4 linked regions of the Homo sapiens genome follow. The protein of the gene in region 1 interacts with the protein of each later gene in a pairwise test. Each region holds a gene or a part of one and is shown on either strand. Other genes may lie near its edges.

Region 1 (7,028 bases):
TCTTTTAACAAATTTCACTGAAGGATGTCAGTCTTCCTTTTTTCAGTGAATTAGAGACATCGGTGCAAAGAATATGAATTATTAATCATCTTAATTCAGCTAGTTAGCAAGCTGTATCACATTTATTAAAATCACTTTTATTTCTATGGGTTTAGTTTCACCATTTATTAGGAGGAAAGGAAGCAAATTTGTGAGGGAGCTCTGGGTTGTCAGGAAAGGCTTTTCAGAGTAGTAAAGCAATCAAATGAGAATAACTGATTCAGTATTTGTTTCCTTTGTCTCTTTGGTTTACTTTTTAGTTTTGTAGAACACTTGATCACTACCATCTCACTTGGTCCTAGTTGATGTATCATCTACATTTTTATTCAAGGTTTAATATAAAATGCTATAAAAGGCTATCCTAAACTGGTTTTAAGCATATTTGTTTTGTTTGTTCAGCATAAAATACACAAGAGGATTTTTATGGAATGGCTCCTTGTTACAAGGTACTTTGCATTTATAATCAGCCACAGTCACCTCAGTTTCATCCCGTATCTTACAAGTATGATGTGCTGTATACTCAAAGCCTCACCACCTGCTTGCCCCACCCATTTGCTTAAATGTATCAATTTTTTCTAAGCTTAACTTTTACCAAAACTGGAGTTCAACAGATGAATATTTTTCCTTCTTAGATGTTAACTAAACATTTTTAAAGGTACAAAATTTATGTACAAACATAACCCAAATGACATGGAAGTTACTTGATTTGTGACTTACCTCTGTAATGTTCCCCTGGCCTACTTGAAATTCCTACCTTTCCTCTAGTCTAGTATCTTATTCTCAGTTATTCGGAGGAAGTTAGGGACCTAGAATTCTTGTTTTCAGAGCAGTAGAATTTTGCTAACATAATTCAAAACATTTATCCCTATCTTGGGGCTTGAAGAGAATGTGAAATGCTTTATCTTCTGTTTTGAGGGAATGAGGGAAGGAGCTTGTTCTTAGGCAATTAACAAGTAAATTTAAATAAATAATCCAAATCTGGTGTGGGTAAACAAATTTTAGTTTTAGGAACTTTCAAAATTAAGTATGCTTCCCCTTTGGGTTCCAGATTTTACAGTAATACTTTTTGAAAGCAGTAAGATAAAAATTTCAGGACCTCAAGAGATGGGTCAAAAGAGTTTCACTGTAATATGAATTTTGAAGCCAGAACTGGAAATCCCCTGTGCTGTGTCTTCCTCTTCGTGGTAGTAGAGGTTACAGTTATCAAATAGTCCAGAGAAGCAATGGGAACTTATGATTTCTGATAGAAAAATTTTAACAGAGATGTACTTGTATGCAAATAATATATGATGCCTCAGTTTCCTCCAAAGTCTTAGTTAACAGAGTTAGAAAAAATCAGATTATATTTGAAGTTCTGTGTTCATACTGGAGTAATTATTATTCCAATGGTACAATATACAACATAACTTTATTACATTTTTTGGTACAGCATAAAGATGATTTTCCCTTTCTCTGAGTATTTCTGAAATTTAAAATGAAATAAGTGTGGTAGAAGCCATTATTTATGAATTATCATGCTAAATTAATTAACTCATTAATTCATTCAGGGCACACCCAGTTATTCCCCAAACTGAGTGATGTATTTCTGGGAATAGACTTATTAAGCTTGAGAAAACCCAAAGGATCATTATAACAGCAAACAGGAATGTAGGCATCCACATAGTGGATGACTTTAGTGACCTGGCACACAGTGCCTTATCTACTTGGCACATGTACAGGTACAAGGAACACTTAACATTTTGCACCAGAGCTTATTACATACCACTTTCAATGCTTGAGATATTATATAAATGCTAAAATTCTAAAACCTATAGTAAAGCAAAGACCCAGATTTTATACTGCAGTAGTTTTGCCAGTAAGTCTCATCCTCACTAACTTATCTTTTAAGATTAAAAATAATGTAACCAAGTGGGAAGAAAAAGAGCAAATATGAACAAATTGTCATTGTTTTAGAATCTGCTTCTTTTCCTTTCCGGTATTTCTGTGCAAGGAGAGAATGATCTCTGACCTTGTGAAAGGCAAATACCATGTGTATTCATGGTTGTTATTCATTTGGCAACGACTTGAAACTCATGACACTCCCTGCTGAAGATCCTCCACCTATTCTTAACAGCTGGGCTCCCCAGCTCCTGGATCACCAACCAGTACCAGTCTGTGGCCTGTTAGGAACTGGGCTTGTACAGCAGGAGCTGAGCAGCTGGAGAGTGAGCAAAGTTTCATCTGTATTGACAGCTGCTCCCCATCGCTCACATACATTACCACCTGAGCTCAACCTCCTGTCAGATCAGCAGTGGCATTAGATTCTCATAGGAGCAAGAACCCTATTGTGAACTGCATGTGTGAGGGATCTAGGTTGCGCACTCCTTATGAGAATCTAATGCCTGATGATCGGTCACTGTCTCCCATCACCCCCACATGGGACTGTCTAGTTGCGGGAAAACAAGCTCAGGGCTCCCACTGATTCTACCTTATAATGAATTGTATAATCCTTTTGTTATATATTACAATGTAATAATAATAGAAATAAAGTGCACAATAAATGTAATGCGCTTGAATCATCCCAAAACCATCCCCTGCTTCACTGGTCCATGTCTTCCACAAAACCGGTCCCTGGTGCCAAAAAGGTTGGGGACCACTGTTTACCAGGATGCATAGCATGGGTTTATGAATTCCCTATCTTTGCAGCACATCCTTTATTTCTGGCTTGCATGGGACTTGAAAGCCTAAAACAACTAAATGCTAAGAAAAATTATTTTTAAAATGATGACAAAAATATTTTCTATTTCAGATGTATAGATCTGCAATCCAGAAACTATGAATTTTTTTCAGTTGAGTAGTCTGTTTGCCAAAAAATAAAAAAAAATAAAAAATAAAAACTTGCCTAAGTTTCTTCTCTTACATTTTATTTAGGATTTGCCCTTAGACATTATTTAGTGCTTTTCTGACCCTGTAGGGACGGTGAGAATAATTGAAACACTAGTTTCTTAAAATTTCTGTTAAAATTGGTTAAAGGCCATAGAATTTTTTTTTTAAGCTAAGCATGTTATAGAGAGGTATCCTATAAGAAGCAAGGGGCAGGTAAAGACTTTAGAGATGTATAGTCCAGTGTGTTAATTAAAGGATACTACCTACTTCTAATTCGGTATGTATTAATCTTTTCTGATATATCTGTTAAAGTACTCTTCGCATATTTTTAAAAAATTGGCATTTTAAAGTATAGTCTTTGATGGTAGAAATGTGAGATTGACAAAAATCATGTCCTCTTATGTATGAATTTAGTCTTACACAGTTCTTCATATGATGGAATCTAAAACAAATGTAGTCTTGAAAACTTTTAGTCTACTTTGGTTACATGTGTTTATTATTGCTCACCTTATAGATTAACAGCAGAAAAGTATAAATTTTAATATTTCTACCTTTCTGGCTTGAGGTCTACAGCATTAATTTCTGACCAGTTAATGCAAACTGAGATTCCTATTGTCCTAAGAAAATCTGGGAAGTTAGTAACACAAACACATCTTTTGATTTATTTCAGGACCACATAAACCCATTTTGAATTATTCAACCATTGCTGAACTTCTTGAGTATGTATAATTAAGAGTTGACTATAATTGGAATGTTCTTAAGACTTTAAGTTGATTATAAAATTTTGTGCTTAAAGTTGGCAATAATCAAAACAAAACAAACAAACAAAAAAAACCCTTTATTTTAAAACACAGTCTTGCTCTGTCACCCAGGCTGGAATGCAGTGATGACATCATACTTCATTAGACCGTCAATATTCCAGGCTCAAGCAATCCTCCCACCTCAACCTCCCGAGTAGTTGGGACTACAAGCGCATGCCACCATGCTTGGCTAATTTTTTTTTAGTAGAGACAGTGTCTGTCCATGTTGCCCAGGCTGATCTCAAACTTCTGGACTCAAGTGATCCTCCTGCCTCAGCTTCCCAAAATACTGGCATTATAGGCATAAGCCACCATCCCTGGCCAAAAAATAATTCTGAAACAGCAAGGAGGAAGGCGGTTTCTTCTTGGGAAGTCTTGATTTTAGTTGAGCATGTAGAGGGATCACTTGACTTATTAACCACTTAGGATTGCACAGTAAGATAATTTAAAGGGTAGCCAGCACTGGAGTGGGCCTGGGAAGGGGATGGGCAGTTTGTGTTAGTGTGTGTGGGTCCAAGATAAAAATGTTGGGTAGCAGAGTTTTGCCTAATGCATTGTCGCTAAAAGGGATGAAGGGCATCGGGATCTACAGGAGATGGAAAAAGTAGTGACAGGATAGTAGTGGGAAAAACTAGGATCGGATCAAGGCACTGGAAGGCAGAAATATTGAGTAGAATGTTTGCTGCAATTTATGTTTCTGTATAAATACCGAGTACAAAGTTTCACTTGGGTGGTCAAGGTGCTATGGCTGTGACAACTCCTGAGAGTGGGTTTTCTGGTTAAAAAAAAAAAAAAATCTCTGAATGCACGGAGTCGTCTCAGGCCTTCTCAAATTTGCAAAGAACAGGTCCACAAGACCTACATTTCCCAAGATAATTGCAGTAGTGTGACCTGATAATTAACATTTTTTGCTTTCCTGCTGGAACATTCCTGGGGCCCAGAGACTGGGCCAAGCATTTCCAGTCCAAAGACTGGGAACTGAACCAAGCATTTCCTTTAGATTGTTCAAGTTGTGAAGGTTGATGTTATTAGCTTGGTTACTACTTGGAGTCTTAGCTCATAGTGTGTCTTTATGGCTTTCTGCCTCACTGGACCCTCTTCCCAAAAGGCTTTAGAATGTGTTCACCATCATGAGCTGACCAACAATTTCTAAATTCCTACTCAGAAACACAGCAAGGGGAATGCAGTCAAGCACAAAGGGCTTAAATGACCAGATAAGGCTGGGCTGGATGAATAAAGAGGAATATCCTATGAATGTGACTGTGTAGTTTTAGAGTATCCCGATTCAACTGTTATATTTGACTTGTGGCCTTGTAGACAGTGTGTTAATGTCAGATCTTCTTTTTCAGAACTGTTTTAATCATGGACAAACAAAGTAAGTAATTTATTTTAAATGTTTACTTTCCTCCTTATAATGTTAATCTGTTGGTAACTTGTTATTTGTCATAATGTTTTATTCAGTGTCTGAAAGTGTATAATTTGTTTTCTGTTGTTTATGCTCCAGAATACAATGTCTAGTTCAGTATTTTGACTATAGAGAAGATGTACAAAAATAGCACTATCACTAGGTTCTTCATTAAAAATACGAAAGCCTTTTGGAAAGCTAAGAAATGCTAGATTTATTGGGAAATATGTTCTGTAACATATATTTAAACCACAACAATATTCTCTTTGTGTATTTTATATGTATAAAGATTATTCAAGTCATACTAATTAACAGATAATAAGATTTGAGTTCATTGTAATAAACTCCTCAGATACACACCTCAATGTATATTTCATCACAGACACATGTTTGTATTTTAAGTAAATACCAGTCATTATGTTCTGGCTTTTTTTCTCTCAAGAAAATTCTAAGTAAGATGGATATTTATCAAGCAAGTAATAAAAGACTGTCTTATTAAGATATCAAGGTTCTGAAGAACAGAGGGAAAATTATGTTCAAAATTCCCACTACATAGGGAAAATTAAATTCAAAAATTAAATCCTGTTTTTCTGAAACGCTTTTCTTTATTCTCTCTTTCATCTTTGTTGAGGTAACAAAAAAATATTTATCTGTCACTACAGTGTCACCCTTATTAGATATATGAAATAATCTCCAGGACTAGACTCCTTGCTTTTCCCATGTGAAGTTTTATGATTTTCTTTTTACTTACAAAACTCAAAGCTTTTTAAATGTAAATTTATATAGAATTATACTGGTTTATTTGCCACAGACTTTAAGTTGATTCCACTCAATTTACAAAAATGTATCTGGTGATGGTCATAGGCAACTTTTAACTCTTCAGTTTTGTATATATAATTGTATGTATGTATGAATGTATTTGCATAAATAGAAATAAAATGTGTATATGTGTGTGAATAAATGTGTAAATATGTATATATACATACATGTAGACATAAAAAAAAGTACCTTTAAGACAATGTGATAGACTTGTACTTCTTATAAGCCATTTTAAGTTGCATTTCAAAAACGCAGTAATCAAACCATAATTAACATGCTCTTTGTTCTGCTTGAACACCTGCCCATTCACTCATTCTCCTTGTATGAATTCCCCCTGGAATGCCTGAAATCAGAATCATTGCTTTGGTACCAAAAGCCCAGAGATTGTGAGCTCATGATTTCTTGAGTCTGTCTGTTCCTGTATATGTGTGTGTGTGTGTGTTCTATGTTATAGTATTCAAACAATGTTGCTTATTAAGAGGTATCACAATGTGACATACCTGTCAAGGGTAGATCTTTACTTCAGACTTGCAAAATATTTTCTTGAAATCTATTCTGAGTCTGATGCTGTGTTTCCAACTTAATTTGGGAGTAGGGGCTGCAGGCAGGGCCTTATTAGCTAGAGAACTAGGGAGTTAGGTCAGTCACTTGATGCTGAGAAATAGAAGAGAATGGATGGGAAAGAATGATGGGGAGTTTCAGAGATTTGTGATGATTCACAAATCACAAGGTATGTTGCAATGTTTGTCCAGGGAAAAGTCCTCATTTGTTTTTTGTTGTTGTTTTGTGTTATTTATTTATTTATTTATTTATTTGAGATGGAGTCTCGCTCTGTCGCCCAGGCTGGAGTGCAGTGGCACGATCTCGGCTCACTGCAACCTCCGCCTCCCGGGTTTAAGTGATTCTCCTGCCTCAGCCTCCTGAGTTGCTGGGACTACAGGCGCGTGCCACCATGCCTGGCTAATTTTTGTATTTTTAGTAGAGATGGGGTTTCATTTTGTTGGCCAGGCTAGTCTTGAACGAGTAGGAGAGCGGTTTTTTTGCCTGATTTTACACAATCACCATGGACTGGATTCCGCTGAAGTCATCATGAAGCTATT
Region 2 (7,028 bases), on another chromosome or scaffold:
GCACTCCAGCCTAGGCAACAAGAGTGAAACTCCATCTCAAAAAAAAAGATTTGCCTGTAATCAGCCAGCACCCCCAGCCTTGTGCTCACTTTACATACAAAAATTCTGTTTTTTAGAGCATAAATTGAAGGGCACATTCAAAACTGATACGTAGGCCAGGCATGGTGACTTATGCCTGTAATCCCAGCACTTTGGGAGACCGAGGCAGGTGGATCACTCGAGATCAGGAGTTTGAGACCAGCCTGGCCAACGTGGTGAAACCCCATCCCTACTAAAAAATACAACAAATTAGCCAGTCACAGTGGTGCGCACCCATAGTCTCAGCTACTCGTGAGGCTGAGGCAGGAGAATCACTAGAACCTGGGAGGCAGGAGGTTGCAGTGAGCCGAGATCATGCCACTGCACTCCAGCCTGGGTGACAGAGTGAGACCTTGTCTCAAAAACAAAGACAAAACCAAAACAAAACAAAACTGAGAAGCAACAGATTGATAAGTGACACAGTTACACTGGTCAGTCTCTTCAGCTAATACCCATTGTTTTTTATTATTGGAGATTCATAATGTGTTTTCTTTCTTTTAAAAACTTTTTTCGGAAATGGTAATTTCTCTCTTTTTTTTTTTTTTTTTTTTTTTTTGAGACAGGGTCTCACTCTATCACCCAGGCTGGAGCGCGGTGGCACAATCTCTGCTCACTACAACCTCTGCCTCCTGGGCTTGAGCAATCACACCTCAGCCTCTTGAGTAGCTGGGACAACAGGCACATGCCACCATTCCTGGCTAATTTTTAGTAGAGACGGGGTTTCACCATGTTGCCCAGGCTGGTCTCGAACTCCTGACCTCAAGTAATCTGCCCACCTCAGCCTCCCAAAGTATTGGGATTACAGGCGTGAGCCACTACGCTTGGCCTCATAGCGTATTTTAATATTGGTTGAGACTAGCCTTGCTCATTGATCTTCTCTTAGCGTTTACTTGGTTATTCTTGCTTATTTTTCCATAAGAACTTTCATTTTTATTTAATCCTGTGTTTTTTGGTTTTAAAGACTATTTTATAATAAATTTTCGTGATTAAACTCTTGTGCTTAAACTCTTGATTAAACAAACAAGCAATGAAGAGATGAATGAAGCAGAAAATGTGAGTTTCATGCCTCACATTCCCACTCCTCTGAGGTTAATATTTTCATGTATATTTTTCAGGATGTATTTGTAATCTCATACAAACGTATGTATTTTTTTAATGAAAATATTTAAATTTTCATAGTTAACAGCTGTAGCTCTAACTTGGCAATATCTTCTGTGTTTCTTTACAGCCATTATACTTGCCCACGAATCTTTGAGAACATTATAATGACCTTTGTGCCTCTTCTTGCAAGGTGTTTTCTCAGCTGTTATCTCAAGACATGGATATAAAAAACTCACCATCTAGCCTTAATTCTCCTTCCTCCTACAACTGCAGTCAATCCATCTTACCCCTGGAGCACGGCTCCATATACATACCTTCCTCCTATGTAGACAGCCACCATGAATATCCAGCCATGACATTCTATAGCCCTGCTGTGATGAATTACAGCATTCCCAGCAATGTCACTAACTTGGAAGGTGGGCCTGGTCGGCAGACCACAAGCCCAAATGTGTTGTGGCCAACACCTGGGCACCTTTCTCCTTTAGTGGTCCATCGCCAGTTATCACATCTGTATGCGGAACCTCAAAAGAGTCCCTGGTGTGAAGCAAGATCGCTAGAACACACCTTACCTGTAAACAGGTAAGTCCAGTCTTCATTCTGAATTATAGTTGCTAGCCATTTCTCAAATCACTTTATGGTTGAGTGAGAAGGAAATAATATGTTAGACAAGGTCTTTATTGTATTAATTACATAGTTTACTTACAGCACCCAAAACACAGGATGCCCTGTTCTATTCTGATATTTTAGTTCTCATTAAAAACTGGTATGTGTACATCAGTGTTGTGGGGAGAATTTGCTATCATGACTATTGTCTTTATACAGTAAATACTGAACTTAAGTCACTCCTTTTCTTTTTTTGAGACAGGGTCTCGCTCTGTCACTCAGACTGGAGTATAATGGCACGATTGCGGCTCACTGCAACCTTCACCTCCTGGGTTCAAGCAATTCTCGTGCCTTAGTCTCCCGAGTAGCTGGGATTACAGGCGCGTGCCACCACGCCCAGCTCATTTTTTAAATTTTTAGTAGAGACAGGGTTTCACCATGTTGGCTAGGCTGGTCTTGAACTCCTGACCTCAAATGATCCACCTGCCTTGGCCTCCCAAAGTGCTGGGATTACAGACGTGATGAACACTGTGCCTGGTCTGAACTTAAGTCACTCTTAATGGAGTTATTTGGATTTGAAAAATGAATTTTTACTTTACTTTCAGTTTCAAAGTCTTCTTATAGTGAAACCACAATTTAATGTTCATGACAAATTGTTTCCAGGATAAAAGTAACTGTGATAGTATTACAACTTAAATGAAATTCTAGACATGCGAAGCATGAAAAGATAGATGATTGGTATAAGCTTTTTAACCATGAACTAAAATAATAACATTATATAAAGATTGGTGGAAACTATTGAAGTTTAGGCTTCAGTTGACATTCCCTGAAGTTAAAAAGGATATGTGTACTCTTTAAATGCAAGGTAACATAATGGATTATTTCCATCTAATTATTAATATTTCTAATGATAATCATAGGTATGAAGGGAATGGATAGTATAATGAGAAAGGAGAGGGGGAGATAAAAATCTAAAAGTACTAAGGGCATGTTGGATATTGAAATTCACTACTTTCAAATATTATCATAAAACTTTGAGACAGTAACATTGCACCATTATTTTTCTTCTTTTAAAAACATTTTACTCATTGGTAAAGAGAATATAAACATTGTGGATAACTTTTTTAAAGTAATGGTTTGTTTTTTTTTTCTCCTTCCTCCTTTAAAGGAAGACATATTTTGTTTCTGAGCATGAATTATAATCAAAGTTCTGCTAATTTTTGGGCAAATTAATCCATTATATAATTACCTTCATTTATAAATCAATAATACCTTTACCATTCCCTTTCCAAAAGAACCATGCCTGGCAACATCAGGAACTAGCCAGATGTGTTTTGGAGGCTGCCTGGGGATCCCTTGTTAGACTTTTCGTTCCTTTATGAACCTCTTGCCTGTGGTCCAGCATTGAGCCTCTGCTTCCTTCCAAGCCTTTCCAGGCCAGGCACTTGCTTGTTCTCTCTCTTCTCTTCTCTCTTCTTTTTTCTCTCTCCCTTTCTCTTCTCTTCCCCCTTTTTCTTGTCTCACATTCATCTCAAGGTAACTTAAAGTCCATTTGTTATTCCTCTTAAAGTTATTTTTATTTTATTTTTTTGAGATGGAGTCTCACTCTGTTGCCCAGGCTGGAGTGCAGTGGCACAGTCTTGGCTCACTGCAACCTCTGCCTCCCGGGTTCAAGCAATCTCCTGCTTCATCCTCCAAAGTAGCTGGGATTACAGGTGTGCACCACCATGTCTGGCTAATTTTTGTATTTTTAGTAGAGATAGGGTTTCACCTTGTTGGCCAAGCTGGTCTCGAACTTCTGGCCTCAGGTGATACGCCCACCTTGGCTCCCCAATGTGCTAGGATTACAGGCATGAACCATTGCGCCCAACCTGAAAGTTATTTTAAATCTAGACCTTTATCTGAAATTGCAGAGTGTGAGATGTTTGTTCTCCATTTAAATGGGAACTTCAAATGTCTGAAGGGCTGCTTAGCAATGCTGTTGGGAATGACTGATGTTTGGAAGTGGTTGAATGCCTTCACACCCATCCATGCAGCATTCGTGAACTCTAGTAACTACAGAAGACCAATGCATATCCTGCCTGTGGTTCAGACCTGTGGGTAAGATTTGATCTGGCCACTCCTTTCATTACACTTAGAGATGTAGCTCCCACCCCATGGCTATGACTGGTCTTCGGCAGTGACAAATGCTCATCAGCATCACGTGGATGGGCATAAACTCACCTACCCACTTTCAAACATTAGTCATTCCCCACAGCGTGGCTCTTTGTAGATATGATATCAGTATCAAAAGCTTTGCTGTATCAGATTTCCGGGAATATATTTACCAGGAACCCTGGAGGAAAAAGAGATTAAATTAGGCAATGTTCATGCTATTTTTTTTTCCTAGAAAGCCCTTCCTTTCCCTTTTATGCTCTGTTCAATGGATATTTTCTTTGCTCCCTAGAGAGACACTGAAAAGGAAGGTTAGTGGGAACCGTTGCGCCAGCCCTGTTACTGGTCCAGGTTCAAAGAGGGATGCTCACTTCTGCGCTGTCTGCAGCGATTACGCATCGGGATATCACTATGGAGTCTGGTCGTGTGAAGGATGTAAGGCCTTTTTTAAAAGAAGCATTCAAGGTACAAGAGAATTGTTAACTGCTTCTTTAGTTTCCTACTTTTGATTTCAAACAATTTTGCAGAGATGACTTGGCAGAAATGTCACTACTGGCCTGTTTGGCACACAAAGTATTTGATGAGCAGTTCAGAGGATCATGTGTGTTTGGAAGTGGGTTGGGTGGTGGGGTGGAATTGCAGATTTCTACCCCAGAACCCCAAGATTATACAGCCAACTCGAATGGGTCTTACCCCTCGTTCACCCACATGGGTGTTGGATAGAAGACATCGAGTTACAACCTTGTGAAGATGTCTCTTGGAAAAAATGTGCTCACAAGGAGTTGCAAAGATTGTTTCTTTCTTTTACTTAAATTTAATATATAGCATGCTTAACAGTCATGATGGTGGGCTGGCTCCTGAGGAAGAAAGAATAAACACATTTTTTGGAAATGGTCAGAAATCAGGAATTCAGCTACAGTGGACTTTGAGAATTGATCTAGACACATTTCTTCCCCTAGGCTAGGAGGGTCTCAGTTCACAATCCCCTTGTTTTCTGGGCTGTGTTTAGATTATTTCCCTAACTTTCTCTAAACGCCTTCTGGATTTTTTTTTTTAAATCAACTTGTTGATGAAAAGAATCAAACTCTGTAAAATATTTGAAGAGATTTATTCTGAGCCAAATATGAGTGACAAATGGCCTGTGACATAGCCCTCAGGAGATCTGAGAACATGTGCCCAAGGTGGTCAGGCCACAACTTGGTCTTATACATTTTAGGGAGACATAAGGCATTAATCAATGCATGTAAGATGTACATTGATTCAGCCTGAAAAGGCAGGACACCTGAAAGCAGGGGCTTCCAAGTCACAGGCAGTTCAAAGATTTTCTGATTGGCAATTGATTGAAAGAATTATTATCAGTAGGAAGCAATGATTGGGTTACAATAAGGGATTGTGGAGACCAAGGTTTTATCATGCAGATGAAGCCTCCAGGTAGCAGGCTTCAGAGAGAATAGATTGTAAATATTTCTTAGGGGTCTTAAAGGGTCTGTTCTATCAGTGATTCCAAAAGGGGAGGGAGGGTATAATGAACCATGTCTGTCTCCCTTGTTCCATCATGGCCTAAACTTATTTTTCAGGTTAACTTTGTAATGCCCTTGGCCAAGAGGAGGGACCCATTCAGATGGTTGAGGGGCCTTAGAATTTTATTTTTTGGTTTATAAACTTCAAGTTGTGCACCCCTGATTTCAAGGCTGGTCAGCTCATCTCCCTGCATGTGTCTTTGCTACACTCCTTCTCTCGTACCAGCCCTGATTTGCTGAAGTCACTTTCTTGCTTACTCTTGTTTTCTCTATTTGCCCCATAACCTGTCCCTCAACTGCTCCCTCCCAGGCAACACCCTATGTTTCCATCTGAAAGCTCCCTTCCTTTTTCTATCAAAGCCCCAATGCTTTGTTCTTTGCCAGTTAAGAAAAGCAACGTTGAGAGAATTCATAGTGTGTAAATGGCAAATAGCAATTTACTAAATTAACTCACCCATTGATAACTCTAAGAGGATGTTTTACCTTAAGCAGAGAAATACTGATAGAATCCAGGATATGGTGAGGAGTGAAATGTTGGTAGTCACCTTCCTACCTGTCCCCTGAAATTCACCCTGTATGAATGGCAGCCTCTTTGTCCTGGATTTTATAATTACTAGCTCTGCGACTTCACCTCCTAGCCTGTTTCCTCCTCTGTGAAATGGAGATACTCATAGGGATTTTCTAAAGATGAAATAAGGTTGATTATATGAAAACATATTCAGTGCTCAAATATTTTATTTGTGACAATCTTAACAGTAGATTATAAGGCCAAGTCCATTTCCTGGCTATATGATAAGAACAATATTGATTTTCTGAAATTCTGAACTGAATTCTTGATACGATGACTATTTTGTATCTTGCTGAGTTTCTAGGATTTTACCCCTTAAGAACGTTTGGACCTATTACTACTAACCATATCTTTTAAAAAGAGATCCTTCTTTTTTTTTTTTGCTTTTGGGGAAACATTGGTCTGCTTGAAACATCTTTGACCCCTGAGACTACAGCTAATAACAATTGAAAGTAAATTTCCTTTGCTTCTCTATGTTGTTTCTTCCTTCCTGCTGCATCAGACAGGAATGTCAAATTCTAAATGTGCAAAGAGGAAAGAGTTAAAGCTGTTACAGTTGTACAGTTGTAGTGCCTAAATGATCCTTTCTTTGCATGCTTCCTGTCTTTGATATAAGTGCATTACAGTAACTGAAAGTGGCCACTTATTTTTAAAATTGTCTCAAATAGGCCAGGATGGTACAGTATTGAGAAATTCCTTGCATGTAACTTTTTTTTTTTTTTTTTTTTTTTTGGAGATGGAGTCTCATTCTGTCACCCAGGCTGGAGTGCAGTGGCACAATCTCGGCTCACTGCAAGCTCTGCCTCCCAGATTCACACCATTCTCCTGCCTCAGACTCCCAAGTAGCTGGGATTACAGGAGCTGGCCACCACACCCTGCTAATTTTTTGTATTTTTAGTAGAGACAGGGTTTCGGCATGTTAGCCAGGATGGTCTCGATCTCCTGACCTTGTGATCCGCCCGCCTCGGCCTCCCAAAGTGCTGGGATTACAGGTGTGAGCCACC
Region 3 (7,748 bases), on another chromosome or scaffold:
CTTGCTCACACGATGATTTTAACATCTGCCCTCCAGAATCATTAAGAAAGCAAATTTGTTGTTTTAAGATTGGCCAGCCAAGGCTGCTGTGGAATTTAGATCCGTGTGTCCAGGAAACCCAGGAAAACAACTGGACCTACTTTTGCTCCGTAGGGTGCAGGAGGATGGATTTTTGTGTTGGATTTGTGGTCCCATGGGCCTGGGCTCGCCTCCCAGCTCTGTACACTAGCAATTCTGACACTGGCCAAGTCACTTGACCTGCCTGTGCCCCACTTCCCTCCTCTGAATGGCAGGGCAGTAACACCACCCGACAGTGTTCTGGAGAGGACTGGAAGCAATGCTGTGTGCTGAGTCCCTGGCTGGCAGCATTCTGGAGAGGACTGGGTGGAATGCCATGTGCTGAGCCCCTGGCTGGCAGCGTTCTGAGAGGACGGGGTGCGATGCCATGTGCTGAGCCTCTGGCCCATGTCGGCCTTGACAGTGCAGCTCTTTGCATGGAACAAATCAATCCCTCTGCTGAGTCAGAACTTACTCTCTGTTCCTGGTTGTGCCCAGAGACCGGGGACTTTCCCTCTTCTTCCTACCTGGAAGTCAAAGCAGAGCTGAGCCCTGCGGACCAGAATGTGGGCAGCCTCATTCTGGACTCAGCATCACCAGAGGACACCAAGGCCTGGCCCCAGGAGTAGGGAGCTCAGCCTGGCTGGCCGAGACTGCCTGCCAGCTGGAGCCAGTACGTGGCCCTTAGCCAAAGTGCCCTGTTGCCTCAGAGGCTCCACGGTCCTGCTGGCCACCTTTCATGACACTTTGATTTTAGCCTTCTGACCTCCAACACTGTAAGCACAAATGTGTTGTTTTAAGTTGGCCAGCTAAGGCTGCTGTGGCATTTGGATCCATGTGTGTCCATGAGGGCTCTGGGGGTGACCGGGAACATTTATCCTCACAGCAACCCCGGCCACTTTTACAGATGAGGAAACTGAGGCACAGAAAAGTTCAGTCACTTGCCCAAAGCTACACAGCTGGTCGGCAACAGAGCTGGGATTTGAACCCCAGCACCCACGCTTCTAACCACCACACAGGCTTCCTCTCATGAGGAAGCTCGGAACGTCCTTATTCCTGGCTCTCGCAGTGCTTCCTGGGCCACACAGCAGGTGGTTCCAGCTTCCCCCCAGCCCTCCAAAGAGGCTGGGCTAGATGAGGCCAGACAAGAAGTGGGAGTGAGGTTTCCAAGCCAGGCCCTCATGGCACTCAGCCCTCCTCAGCAGGACATGAACCGCGTGACCTTCCCCCACTGTCGGCATGTGGAGAAAGCGTGACTCCGACTGCCAGATGGGTCACCGAGTGAGGCTCAAGTGTCCCAACCCAGGGGAGCCCCCGTAGGGTAGAGGGGAGCTCTGGACACCTGTGGGGGCTGCACTGATCGTCTTTCTTGTCTGAGCTCCAAGGCCCCGCTTTAACTCTCTCAAACTCTCTGATGTGCATAGGAGGATTTTCCTTCTGAATCCAAAGATTAGAAAGTAAAAACCAGTTACCAGAATAATAATATGTCAGAACCTGGAAGAAGCTCTGGGATCCCCTCTCTGACAGAAAACCAGAAATGGGGTGACATGCTCAAGGTGGCACACGCTGACCCTAAGGCTCGCCCAACACCGGCAGCCCATTCCAGCTTCCCCCACTCCCTCTATGCAGGTTCTACCTTGGGGGCTTCCATAGGGTGGCTGAGGGGTCATTGGTGACAGCCAGGAGGAAACAGGCCTCCTTTCTCCATTCTTCCTCTCTGGAGTCTAGAAAGCAGAGCTGAGCTCTGCAGACCAGAACATAGGCAGCCTCATTCTGGACTCAGTATCACCAGAGGGCACCCAAGCCCAACCCTGGCCTCTGCTGAGGTGGCCCCTGGCAGCTTCCCTGCCCTCAGCACCCTGCCTCTGCCCACCCTCCCCATTCTGCCTCCCCACTCAGGAAGGGCCCATCAGCCCACCCACTCCAGCCCCTCGGGAAGCTCTTTGCCAAGGCAGGGTGAGATCCTGTGACAGGACCCAGCCCAGGACACAGTCACCCCTGAAGGCTCCTGGGCTCCTGGGGCTGCCACTCCCATCTGGGGGCATTTGGCAACTGGCCTTTGCCTCCCTGAACCTTGGATTTTCCGTGAATGAAGGGGACTCATAAACCTCACAGAGTTTCAGCAAGGCACCTGCAGCCCTCTGACCCCACACTGCAGGGACAGTCCCTGCCTCCGTCACCTCTGAGACTGTCCGTCTACAGATGCCCTGACATGCCTATGCCTGGTTAACTCCGCCTCACCCTTCAGAGCACAGACACCTCCTCGGGAGGCCTTCCCTGCTGCACCCAGACTCCCAATAACATGAAACACTCCCAAAGCACCTACAGTGTGTCAGGCACTGTTCAAACACTCTAGATACACTACTTCCTTAATCCATATCCCAACCCTGGGAGTGGGGGGCTCAAGTATTATTCCCACTTCACAGATATGGAAACTGAGGCCCAGAGACCACCAGCCAGTAAATAGCTGGACCCAGGGAGGCCAACTCCACAGTACGCACCCTTAACTACCATGCCGGGTAGCATCCTTACTGTCCCAGAAGCATGCTTGCTTCCTCTTTACACAAACCATCCCACTCTACACCTCTTCCCCTGAGCGCACAGGACAGGACAGGACAGCTCAGCCAACACTGTCAAACCCATGACTCATGGGAGGAGCATCTCTCCAGGCATGAGTGAGCTCAGCATGGCACAGCTGTGCCAGGACGACCCCCACTGACATTTCTGCCCTGCTTGTGTTCTCTTTGGGATGCCCCCACCCCTATCTCCTGCCACCCAGGAGTTGCTTCCTCAGAGCCCCAGAACTGTGTCCCCCTGGCTGAGGCAGCCCTGTGCCCACGGCCCCGGAACTCACTGGGCTCAGATAGGGAGCCTGGCAACCGCTGAAGGCCATCTCTCCACCGCCTCTGTGGCCACCACTGCCTTTGACACCTGCCAGGCAGTCCTTTGCAGAAGGAATGACTTAACAAAGTAATAGAAACCAAAGCAACTTGGCTGTTATTCAATGGGGAGGAGCCGGCAGCAAGAGGAAGTGGGTCCAGAGAGAGAAAGGTAGGGTGTTGGGTGAACTGGGGTGACACTCATAGAGGGAAGTAGGCACTCCCAGCCCCAGTGACCTTTCCCTCCTCCCTCTCCTGTGCTCAACCCAAGCCTGAAGCATATTTGGTTCATAGAGGTCTACAATGCTTGACCACACTGACATGACAGTGAGTTGCCAGATGACACTGCCCAGAAGTATGTGGCTGTGTGTCCTAAGCATGCTTGGCCACTGGTTCCAGAAAATAATGGGGCTGGGTATTGCCTGTGCACAGGGTGCTTGTGGGGAAGGGTGGCTTCAACTCATTTTACATATAGAGAAGCTGAGGCTCAGAGTCTGAGGGACATGCCCCAGGTCACACAGCTAATTCGTGGCAGCCTGAGCTATATGAAGATTCTCAGAATCTTCAAGAAGTATTTCTCCTCTTTAAATTTCTATTCTTCATGTTAAAACATAATTATGTAGAAGGGAATATTTTGCATGAAAAACACTATAATGAAGATTTTTATTCTAGAGTATGGGGTGCCCAGGAGCTTCTGATCCTCCCCCTCAGTGAATCTCTCTTTCTTCTCTTCTCCATCCTTATTTTGTGAGCTTTAGGATGGGGAGAGAAGTATTGGACATAATAGAACATTTCAAGTGACATGGGAGTGGGAAGGAACATATGGCATGAACTGCCTTTAATTGGCTTCAGCACCTAGTTAGGGGAAATAATTGGCTGAAACAGAGAATAACAGGATAGGCTGCAGAGGGGAGAGGGAGCCATGAAATAAACTTACCTGAAGTTGACCAGGTCCCAACGATGTGCTGGCGAGAAGGCCCAGAACTCAAGCTGGGGATGGGCGGGTAAGGACCATACAGGCTCGAGGGGATGGCAGGTGCCCCAGGGCCATACGTAAGTCTGCACCTCTCTTCCTTCCTGTGTTCTGCCTAGATGCACTAGAATTTGCAGACGAACTCCTTTGAGATGTTCCCATAGACTGAGGCCGTGTGTGTCGTCTGCACTCACCATCCCATTATGTTCTGGATCAAGTAGAATTTGACCAAGTTAAGGAGTAGACAGTACAAGGGGAGCAGAAAGGAGAGAAAAGAAGGGAAATTCTTTGCAATCCTCTCGAATACCAGGAATATTTTCATCACGTCACGTCATTTGTAGCAATCACCAATTGATTGGGATATGGAACAACTGGAACTATCATTCATAGCAGACTTGAGTGTAAAATAATCCAACTTAGAAAAATGGGCAGGGCGTGGTGGCTCATGCCTGTAATCCCAGCCCTTTGGGAGGCTGAAGTGGGAGGATCACTTGAGTCCAAGAAGTTGAGACCAGCCTGGTCAAGATAGGAAGACCCTGTCTCTACATATAATTTAAAAGGCAAATTAGCCAGGTGTGGTGGTGCACACCTGTGGTCCCAGCTATGTGGGAGGCTGAGGTGGGAGGCTCACTTGAGCCCAGGAGGCCGAGGCTGCAGTGAACCCTCATCACGCCACTGCACTCCAGCCTAGGTAACAGAGCAAGACTCTGTCTCAAAAAATAAAAAAAATAAAGAGAAAGAAAAACTGCTTGGTGAGTTGTAATATAGTCAAATATCTACTTCAAAGTTGCTGGCTTTTCTACTTCTGAAAAATTACCCAAGAGAAAGGAAAACATATTTGTCTGTTTTTAAAAGCTTTACTCGTCATAGCCCCAGGCTGGTAACAATGCAAATAGTCACCAACAGAAGAAGGGAGAAATGAATTGTGGTTTTCACACTACAGAGTGGCCCTCAGCAATAAAAAGGAGCTAGGCCACAGGAAACGTCAATGAGCCTTGCAACTGAGCGGAAGAAGCCAGATCCAAACAGACACATGCTGTGAGAATTCCATTCGAGTCAAGTTGAACAACAGGCTAGAGTGGCGTTACCCTTGGGAGTCACTGACTGGGAGGGGCACGAAGGAGTCTTCGAGAGGCTGGAAATGTTCTGGATCTGGTTCTGGGTGGTGGTCCCACAGGTGTTTACATCCATTAACAACAGGCTGAGGCTGGGTGCAGCAGCTGACACCTGTAATTCAGCACTTTGGGAGACTGAGGCAGGAGGATTGCTTGAGTCCGGGAGTTTGAGACAAGCCTGGGCAGCATAGCAAGACCTTCTGTGTACTAAAAATCAAAAAAATTAGTGAGGCATGGTGGTGCATGCCTGTAGTCCCAGCTACAGGGAGGCTGAGGCAGGAGTATTGCTTGAGCCTGGGAGGCTGAGGCCACAGTGAGCTATGATCGTGCCACTGCATTGCAGGTTGAGTGACAGAGCAAGACCCTGTCTCAAAACAAAACAAAACAAAACAAAACTCAAACAGAAAACCAGGATCTGTACATTTTATTCTACCTAGACAATATCGCCATAAAATACTGCTAAAAGAAAAAATCTCCCAGAGCCCAAGGAGACACAGGCACAGCTAAGAGTTCCAGCAGTTTAGCACCTTAGCATCACCTTGAGCCTTGGAGGTGAGTCACAGTTAAGCAGCTTCACTAGTGAGTCCAGCCCATAAAGGAGGGCCCTCTGCTCCATGCCCTGTCTGGAGGGGCCCCAGTAAGGTCATACCCAAAGGCTGACATGTTTTTAGACTAATCAACACAGTAGGGAGGCACTTCGAGGCACAGTGCCAGGCCACTGAGAGTTCTGACTTCGGCACCCTTCAGTCACCACAATCCATTCCCAGTGGTTAGCTCTGGTCTTCAGGAGACTAGAAGCAGCCCTCGGGAATGTTCGTGCTCAGAGCTCTAGTGTTCAAAGTCACAGACCCTTCTCAGAGGCTCTCTCTTCTCTGCCCTATAGACTGAGGGAGTCTGCCACCTCACACTCATTAGGATGCCTATGATTAAAAAAAAAATCCAGAAAATAACAACTGTTGGCCAGAATGTGAGTAAACTGGAACCCTGTGAAAACAGCGTGGCTGTTCCTCAAAAACCTCATCATAGAATTACTATATGATCCAGCAATTCCACTTCTGGGTATATCCCCCAAATAACCAAAAGCAGGAACTCAAAGAGACATGTGAACACCCACGTTTGTAGCAGCATCATTCACAAAAGCCAAGAGGTGAAAGCAACACGTGTCCATCAACGGATGAGTGGTCAGCAAAATGTGGGCCAGACATACAATTCAGCCCTAAAAAGGAAGGAAATTCTGGCATATGCCACAACATGGATGGTCCTTGAGAACATTAAGTGAAATAAAACAGCCATAAAAGAACAAGCACTGTAGGCCGGGTGCGGTGGCTCACACCTGTAATCCCAGCACTTTGGGAGGCCAAGGTGGGAAAATCACCTGAGGTCAGGAGTTCAAGACCAGCCTGGCCAACATGGTGAAATCCCGTCTCTATTAAAATTACAAAAAGTAGCCAGGCGCGGTGATGAGTGCCTGTAGTCCCAGCTACTCGGGAGGCTGAAGCAGGAGAATCGCTTGAACCTGGGAGGCAGAGGTTGCAGTGAGCTGAGGTCACACCACTGCACTCCAGCCTGGGCAACAAAATGAGACTCTGTCTCAAAAAAAAAAAAAAAAGAAAAAGAAAAAGCACTGTATGATTTTACTTGTCTGAGATACCTAGAGTGGCCAGAATCAACAAAAGAAAGTAGAATGGTGGTTAGGGGCTGGTAGGAGGGGGAATGAAGACTTATAATTTAATAGGCATAGAGTTCTGGTTTTACAAGATGAAAAGAGTTTTGCGGATGGATGGTAGTGATAATTGTATAACAGCATGAATGTTCTTAATACCACAGGTCTACCACTTAATATTGGCTCTTGGCTAAGATCTTAGCTGAGGCCATTGACTGGAACACCTGCAAGTGGCTTTTCCACATGGCTTGGGCTTCCCCACAATATGGTGGCTGGAGTCCACGGGTGAGCATTCCCAGCGAGAGCCAGGTGGAACTTACATCCCTTTTATAACCTAGCCTCAGAAGCCATCCAGTGCCATTTCCACCACATTCTATTTGTTGAGGCAATCACATGAGCACCACCCAGGCTCAAGGGGAGGGGAAAGTGACCTCACCTCTAGACAGGAGGCAGCAAGAGGTTGAAAGAGCACCTGGGACCAGGAATATTTGGAAAATTCAATGCCTGCCGCAGACAATAAGTAAGTGCTGGACTCCTCTGGGCACTGGGGTACAGAGAGAATTGGACATAGTCCCAGCCTTAAGCATCTCATATTCCAAAGGGTAAGATGGATATACAGCTGGGCTACATGGCTTCAAGGAGGAAGTGCACACAGATTTTTTTTTTTTTTTTTTGAGACAGAGTCTGTCTCTGTCGCCCAGGCTGGAGTGCAATGGCGCCATCTCAGCTCACTGCAAGATCCCCCTCCAGGGTTCAAGGATTCTCCTGCCTCAGCCTCCTGAGTAGCTGGGATTACAGGCACCCACCACCACACCCGGCTACTTTTTTGTATTTTTAGTACAGACAAGCTTTCACCATATTGGCCAGGTTGATCTCGAACTTCTGACCTCAGGTGATCCACCCACCTCGGCCTCCCAAAATGCTGGGATTACAGGTGTGAGCCACCGTGCCCGGCCAAGATTTTTTGTTAAAGTTAATATAGTTGGTTATGTGCTGGACATCATTCTAGGTGTCTTACAATTAACTTTATGTCAGTTTTATGAAGCAGGCACAAATAATAA
Region 4 (5,540 bases), on another chromosome or scaffold:
CAAGTGATCTTCCCGCCTCGGCCTCCCAAAGTGCTGGGATTACAGACATGAGCCACCATGCCTGGCCTCTGAAGGTCATACTCTTAAAAGCTTAGACGAAGAGTCTTAGAACATCTACGGTAATAATAAGAATAACCATTAATGTTTATTATGCCCCGCACTGTTCTGTGTGTATTTCATATGTAATCTAATTTAATCTTTACCACTACTTTTATTTTCCGTTCTGTTCTTTCTTATTGACCTTACCCTTATTTTACACGTGAATAAACTACTGTGCAAAGAGGCTAAGTTACATGGCAAGAAAGTGGTGGGGTTGGGACCTGGAGACCTGGCCTGCTGGCTTCTGTTTGAGGAAACAGCTTGACAGAGAAAAAACCTTGATAGGAAACTTGAGAGATCAGGAAACGTGTCAAAGGGCACACAGCTGGTAACTGCTGGAGCTGGGATTTGAACCCAAGACTAGCTCCAGAGCCTGGGATCAGCCTCCCCTGCAGGACTCTCCTTCATTAGACAGGGTGTCTAGGTCTTAGTGCCATTTTAAGCTTGAATAGCATCAGAAGTATAAATGCTTCAAACTTACCAAACCCCCTTGAAAGTTTAATTATTAAATTTCTTTTGCACGTCTTTAGTTATGTGATTTTTGAATAATCAATTTTTCATTTTCATTTTTGGTTTGAGTCAGCATTTTCCATCTTTGGGAGGATGGAGACCAAAACTTAAAGTGAAACATTTATTATTCGAAAATCACAAAACCATGCACACAACATTAAATAATTAAACTTTAAAATGGTGTTTTTGTAAGTTTATAGGACTTGTACTTCTGAAGTTATTCAGGCTTAAAACTACTAAGATGTTGGGGTCCTGCTGTATATTCATGACTGGATGTCGCCAATGCAGGTGACTGAGGCTGAGAGGCCGGCTGGCAGGAGCCATTCTCTGGGAGGTGCCCTGTACAGGGGGTCTAGGGAAAAGAGGGGCGAACATGAGCAAGAGGCATTTAACTCCTTTCTTGCCAGCAGTTTCACCCAGTGCTGAATTCTGCTGCCTCCTTGGGGACCGGCAAGGCTAAAAATGGTTCTTGGCTAAAAATAGCCAGTCCTGCCACCCCGGTGGTGGGCAGTGCCTCCCCTGGCTCCCTCCTTCCCTTTCAGCAATTTGCTGACTTGTCCCCCACCCCCCACCACTGTCTCCCTGCTGCCATGGTAACGAGGAGGCCAGTCACAAATAGCTGGGACTGGCTTCCTGCCGGGGCGGCCCCAGAGGCTGTCCCTTGCAGACACATGCCCCTTTCACGGCTCCCTCTCAGGGTTGGCCAGAAGGAATTTTTTTTTCCGCTCCCCCTCCTGGTCCCTCCCATTTCCTGGCTCCTCCTGTCTGAGTCCCAGCCCCGGCTTGTGCCTGGGAGTCCAGTCATCAGGCCAGGATTCCAGAGAGCGTGTGTGGCTGCAGCCTGCACCGTTGCTGCCCGCTGCCCAGGACGCGGGGTGGGGGACAGGAGCCAGAGTGGTGCCTCCTACAGACCAATCTGCGGCCCCAAGGTGGGGGGCCCTACAGAGATGCTCCGAGGCATGTACCTCACTCGCAACGGGAACCTGCAGAGGCGACACACGATGAAGGAGTAGGTGCCCTCGACCCAGCTCTCCCGACTCTGGATTTGCAGGGGCGAGTGGGCCAGGCTGAGCAACCCTCTTTTCTGCTTCTGTCCCCAGAGCCAAGGACATGAAGAACAAGCTGGGGATCTTCAGACGGCGGAATGAGTCCCCTGGAGCCCCTCCCGCGGGCAAGGCAGACAAAATGATGAAGTCATTCAAGTAGGTCCTCCCTGGCACCCTGGGACCCTTTGGGGAACTCACTGGCTCCCCGGGGAGTAGGACTGAGTGGTAGGGTTGAGGGGAAGGGGCTTGCCGGCTTGATCCAGCTCTGGGGGAGACAGGCTTTCACAGAGGGAGCTGGGTACCTGGCAAGCAGCTACCCTCACAGGGAGCAGCTGCCCTAGGGGGAAGGCTAGGTGGGGTGGAGATGGGGGCTGGAAGGGACCCTGGCCCCGGGAAAGAGGGTGGGCCTCCTTCCTGGGCGCCCCAGCTGGGCTCAGCTGCAGACTGGGCCCAGGGCAGTAAACAAAGGCCGCCTGGCCCAGCTTCCCCCAAGGTTCCCAAGCCTCTCAGTGCCCTCACTGTGTTTCCTCCCTCACCCCTCAGGCCCACCTCAGAGGAAGCCCTCAAGTGGGGCGAGTCCTTGGAGAAGCTGCTGGTTCACAAATGTAAGTTGGGCCTGCCTGCCCACTCCCTGTGCCCTCTCTCCCTCTCCCCTTCGCCCCCATCCAGACCCTGTGTAGCTGGTGCTAGAGAGGCCGCCTTCCCTCTCCTCGGCCGTCAGGGTGTCCTTGCTGTTGCGGAGGGGCTGAGCCCAAGCTGAGGCCCTTGGTCTGGCCTTGGAGCCAGCTTCTGCCAGCCCCTCCCCGTCCATGTGAGCTGGCACTGCCTGCCGGAGGCCCGTGGGACCTGTGTGCTCAGATCCATATTCCCAGAATAAGAATAAACATTTCTACGTACTGAGGGCTTTCACGGCGCCAAATGTGCCTGCCATCTCATGGGCAGGGTCCCATCGGCTCCTCCCAGGGCTCCGGGAGACAGAATCGATAGTCCCCATTTCACAGATGAAGACACTGAGGCATAGAGAGGGGGAGACCCCACTGAGACCCTGAAAGAGGCAGTGGCAGGGCTGGGGCCACATCCCAGGGCTCCTGGCTGTCGGGGACGGGCATTGTACTCAGCTCCCAGCACGCCCATCTTTAAAGTCCTGTAGGGGTAAGCTGAGGCATCTTAAGGGCAGGAGAGGCTGAGTTTGCCTCTTACCCCAGGATCCGTTCTCCTCACAGACGGGTTAGCAGTGTTCCAAGCCTTCCTTCGCACTGAGTTCAGTGAGGAGAATCTGGAGTTCTGGTTGGCTTGTGAGGACTTCAAGAAGGTCAAGTCACAGTCCAAGATGGCATCCAAGGCCAAGAAGATCTTTGCTGAATACATCGCGATCCAGGCATGCAAGGAGGTAGGACCTCAGGGCAGACCCTCCGCTCCTCCAATCCCCAGGGCCCAGTGGCCCTTCAGCTGCAAGGTGGCAGCCAGCAGCACAGGAAGGGGAGAGGCCAGAATGACTCCATGAGCCCAGGTACCCAGCAGGGAAGATGCAAGCTAGGATCAGGGGAAGAACAGAATCCCAGTTAGTAATAAAAATGGCCACCACCAAGGCACTGCCGCATGCCAGGCATGTGCTGAGCCCTTTATGTATGCGTTCTCATGTTTAATCCACACAACAACCTGTGAAACGAAGAGACAGGCTGGGCACAGTGGCTCATGCCTGTAATCCCAGCACTTTGGGAAGCCGAGCCAGGCGGATCACTTGAGGTCAGGAGTTCGAGACCAGCCTGGCCAACAGGGCGAAACCCCATCTCTACTAAAATTACAAAATTAGCCAGGTGTGGTGATGGGCGCCTGTGGTCCCAGCTACTCGGGAGGCTGAGGCAGGATAATCGCTTGAACCCGGGAGGCGGAGGTTGCAGTGAGCCGAGATCGCACCACTGCACTCCAGCCTGAGTGACAGAGACAAATCATAATTGCTCCCATCTATTGAGTGCCTACTGTGTGCCAGGCACTATGCGCAAAGCACATTATATGGATGATCTTGCTTGGTTTTCACGCTTTGAGGAATGTACTATTATTCCTAGCTGGTAGATAAGACAACTGAAGCTCACCGCACTTAAGTAATTTGCTTCAAGTCACACACCCAGGTGTGGCACTGCTAGGATTTGAACCCAGGAAGCCTAACCCTCAGGGTGGTATTTTCAGCCTTATAAATGCTGCCAGCCCTACAGGAAATGACTGAGCCAGGACTTGAATCCTCTGGTCTGAGGGTCTCTACTTCAGATGAACCTTAAGATGTGGGGCAAAGGGGCTTGGAGGTGAGAGGCTGGATGGGTCCCTTCCAGGCACATGGGCCCTAGGGTCAGTCCCCAGCAGGCAGCCCTGACCATGTCCCCCTCTGCCTCCCCAGGTCAACCTGGACTCCTACACGCGGGAGCACACCAAGGACAACCTGCAGAGCGTCACGCGGGGCTGCTTCGACCTGGCACAGAAGCGCATCTTCGGGCTCATGGAAAAGGACTCGTACCCTCGCTTTCTCCGTTCTGACCTCTACCTGGACCTTATTAACCAGAAGAAGATGAGTCCCCCGCTTTAGGGGCCACTGGAGTCGAGCTCAGCGTTCACACCAGGCGGGCTGGGTCCCCTGCCCACCTGCCTCCCTGCCCCCTGTGACGGAGGGGGCAAGCAAGCCCCCAGAGGCTGTGTCTCTGGACAGACGGATAGACATACGGAAGCGAGGCCTGGACCAAGAGAGGCCCAGGCTACTGGAGGAGTAGAAGGATGGGCCCCGTGGGGTCCCCACTGCCCCGGTACGAGGGGGCCCAAGACCCTGGCAGGTCAGGGGCCCTGGCCAAGCCAGATCTGGAGCTGCTGCTCCCTGCTGCGGAGACCGCGGAGGCTTCGCGTTGACCAAGTTCCTTAAAGAACTGGCTGATGGGGCAGGAGGTCCAGGCCTGGGCTCTCGGGCCCTCCTAGAGGGCCATTGGAGCTTGCAGCTCAGACCCCCACTTTGAGTTTTATTTATTTAAATAGTAGTTGGATGCTTGGCACGTCGTCCTGTAATAGGAAACCCTTGCCTCATCAGTTTTCCTGATTTACAAGTGCAATATTTTAGCCAATGCCTTGGGAGAAGCTGCCATGCAAAGGTGGACACCATTCTCCAGCTTCAGGGGATATGCTCGTCCCGGGCACCGGTGGCAGGCAGCTGGCCTTCTGGACTAAGGCAGCCTGGGGGGACACTGCAGTCTGGCTACACACAGAGATCTGGCACCCCCTGGGTGGAGTGTCCCTCGGGGGCTTTGGGAAAGCATGGCACCCTCAGACCACACAGTAGCCAAGTTCTGGAGCAAATAAAAGGCCTGTGTTATTTCTTGTTCTTGACCCTTTTTGTGTGTTCCTGGTCTTGAGCCTTCCCAGGGTGGCTGGGGCTGGGAGGGTTGGTCGTTGGGCTGTTGATTCAGCCACTGCTCTCTTGCCATCACCTGCCCCCATCCTGGAGCCCGATACACTGATACACTGGTGAGGGCTGCTCTCCCATGCCTTCCTCTGTGCCAGGCACTGTGCCACTCATCCTAGTGGTCACTGCATCTCCTCCCCAAGCCTGGGAGGTAGGGCTTATCCCCATTTTACAGATGAGGAGATGGAAGCACAGACAGGGAAGGTCACGTAGCCAGCAGGTGGCAGGGGTTCAGCCCAAGTCTGACTGTCTGCAAAGCCTGGGCTCTGCCGGCTACAGGATGGAGTCCTTGCTTATCGCCAGCTGGCCACATGTCTTTCAGCAAGTTCCTTCAATTCTCTGCCTCGCCACACCCTGAGGTTTGAATAGAACTTTCACGTGGTGCAGGGATGGCTGGTGAAGGTAGACGGGGCCAGAATCTCAGGAAGGGTGGTGGTGGGCTTATG

What was found.
Region 2: the proteins of PLSCR1 (region 1) and ESR2 interact in binary tests that used the Homo sapiens proteins (3 or more experiments, as listed by UniProt).
Region 3: the proteins of PLSCR1 (region 1) and LGALS9C interact in binary tests that used the Homo sapiens proteins (3 or more experiments, as listed by UniProt).
Region 4: the proteins of PLSCR1 (region 1) and RGS3 interact in binary tests that used the Homo sapiens proteins (3 or more experiments, as listed by UniProt).

The regions. Positions count from the first base shown.
Region 1 is NC_000003.12:146,534,591-146,541,618, reverse strand, and holds part of PLSCR1 (phospholipid scramblase 1), read left to right. Parts: intron 1-438; exon of another isoform or gene 439-462; coding exon of another isoform or gene 463-485; exon of another isoform or gene 486-2,867; intron 2,868-3,574; exon of another isoform or gene 3,575-3,623; intron 3,624-5,053; coding exon of another isoform or gene 5,054-5,066; coding exon 5,067-5,079; intron 5,080-7,028. UniProt on the Homo sapiens protein: Catalyzes calcium-induced ATP-independent rapid bidirectional and non-specific movement of phospholipids (lipid scrambling or lipid flip-flop) between the inner and outer leaflet of the plasma membrane resulting in collapse of the phospholipid asymmetry which leads to phosphatidylserine externalization on the cell surface.
Region 2 is NC_000014.9:64,277,354-64,284,381, reverse strand, and holds part of ESR2 (estrogen receptor beta), read left to right. Parts: intron 1-1,306; 5' UTR 1,307-1,396; coding exon 1,397-1,758; intron 1,759-4,228; coding exon 4,229-4,401; intron 4,402-7,028.
Region 3 is NC_000017.11:18,472,057-18,479,804, reverse strand, and holds the start of LGALS9C (galectin-9C), read right to left. Parts: upstream 3,017-7,748; 5' UTR 2,951-3,016; coding exon 2,912-2,950; intron 1-2,911. UniProt on the Homo sapiens protein: Binds galactosides.
Region 4 is NC_000009.12:113,592,721-113,598,260, forward strand, and holds the end of RGS3 (regulator of G-protein signaling 3), read left to right. Parts: intron 1-1,408; exon of another isoform or gene 1,409-1,556; coding exon of another isoform or gene 1,557-1,618; intron 1,619-1,709; coding exon 1,710-1,811; intron 1,812-2,198; coding exon 2,199-2,260; intron 2,261-2,878; coding exon 2,879-3,045; intron 3,046-4,047; coding exon 4,048-4,233; 3' UTR 4,234-5,018; downstream 5,019-5,540. UniProt on the Homo sapiens protein: Down-regulates signaling from heterotrimeric G-proteins by increasing the GTPase activity of the alpha subunits, thereby driving them into their inactive GDP-bound form.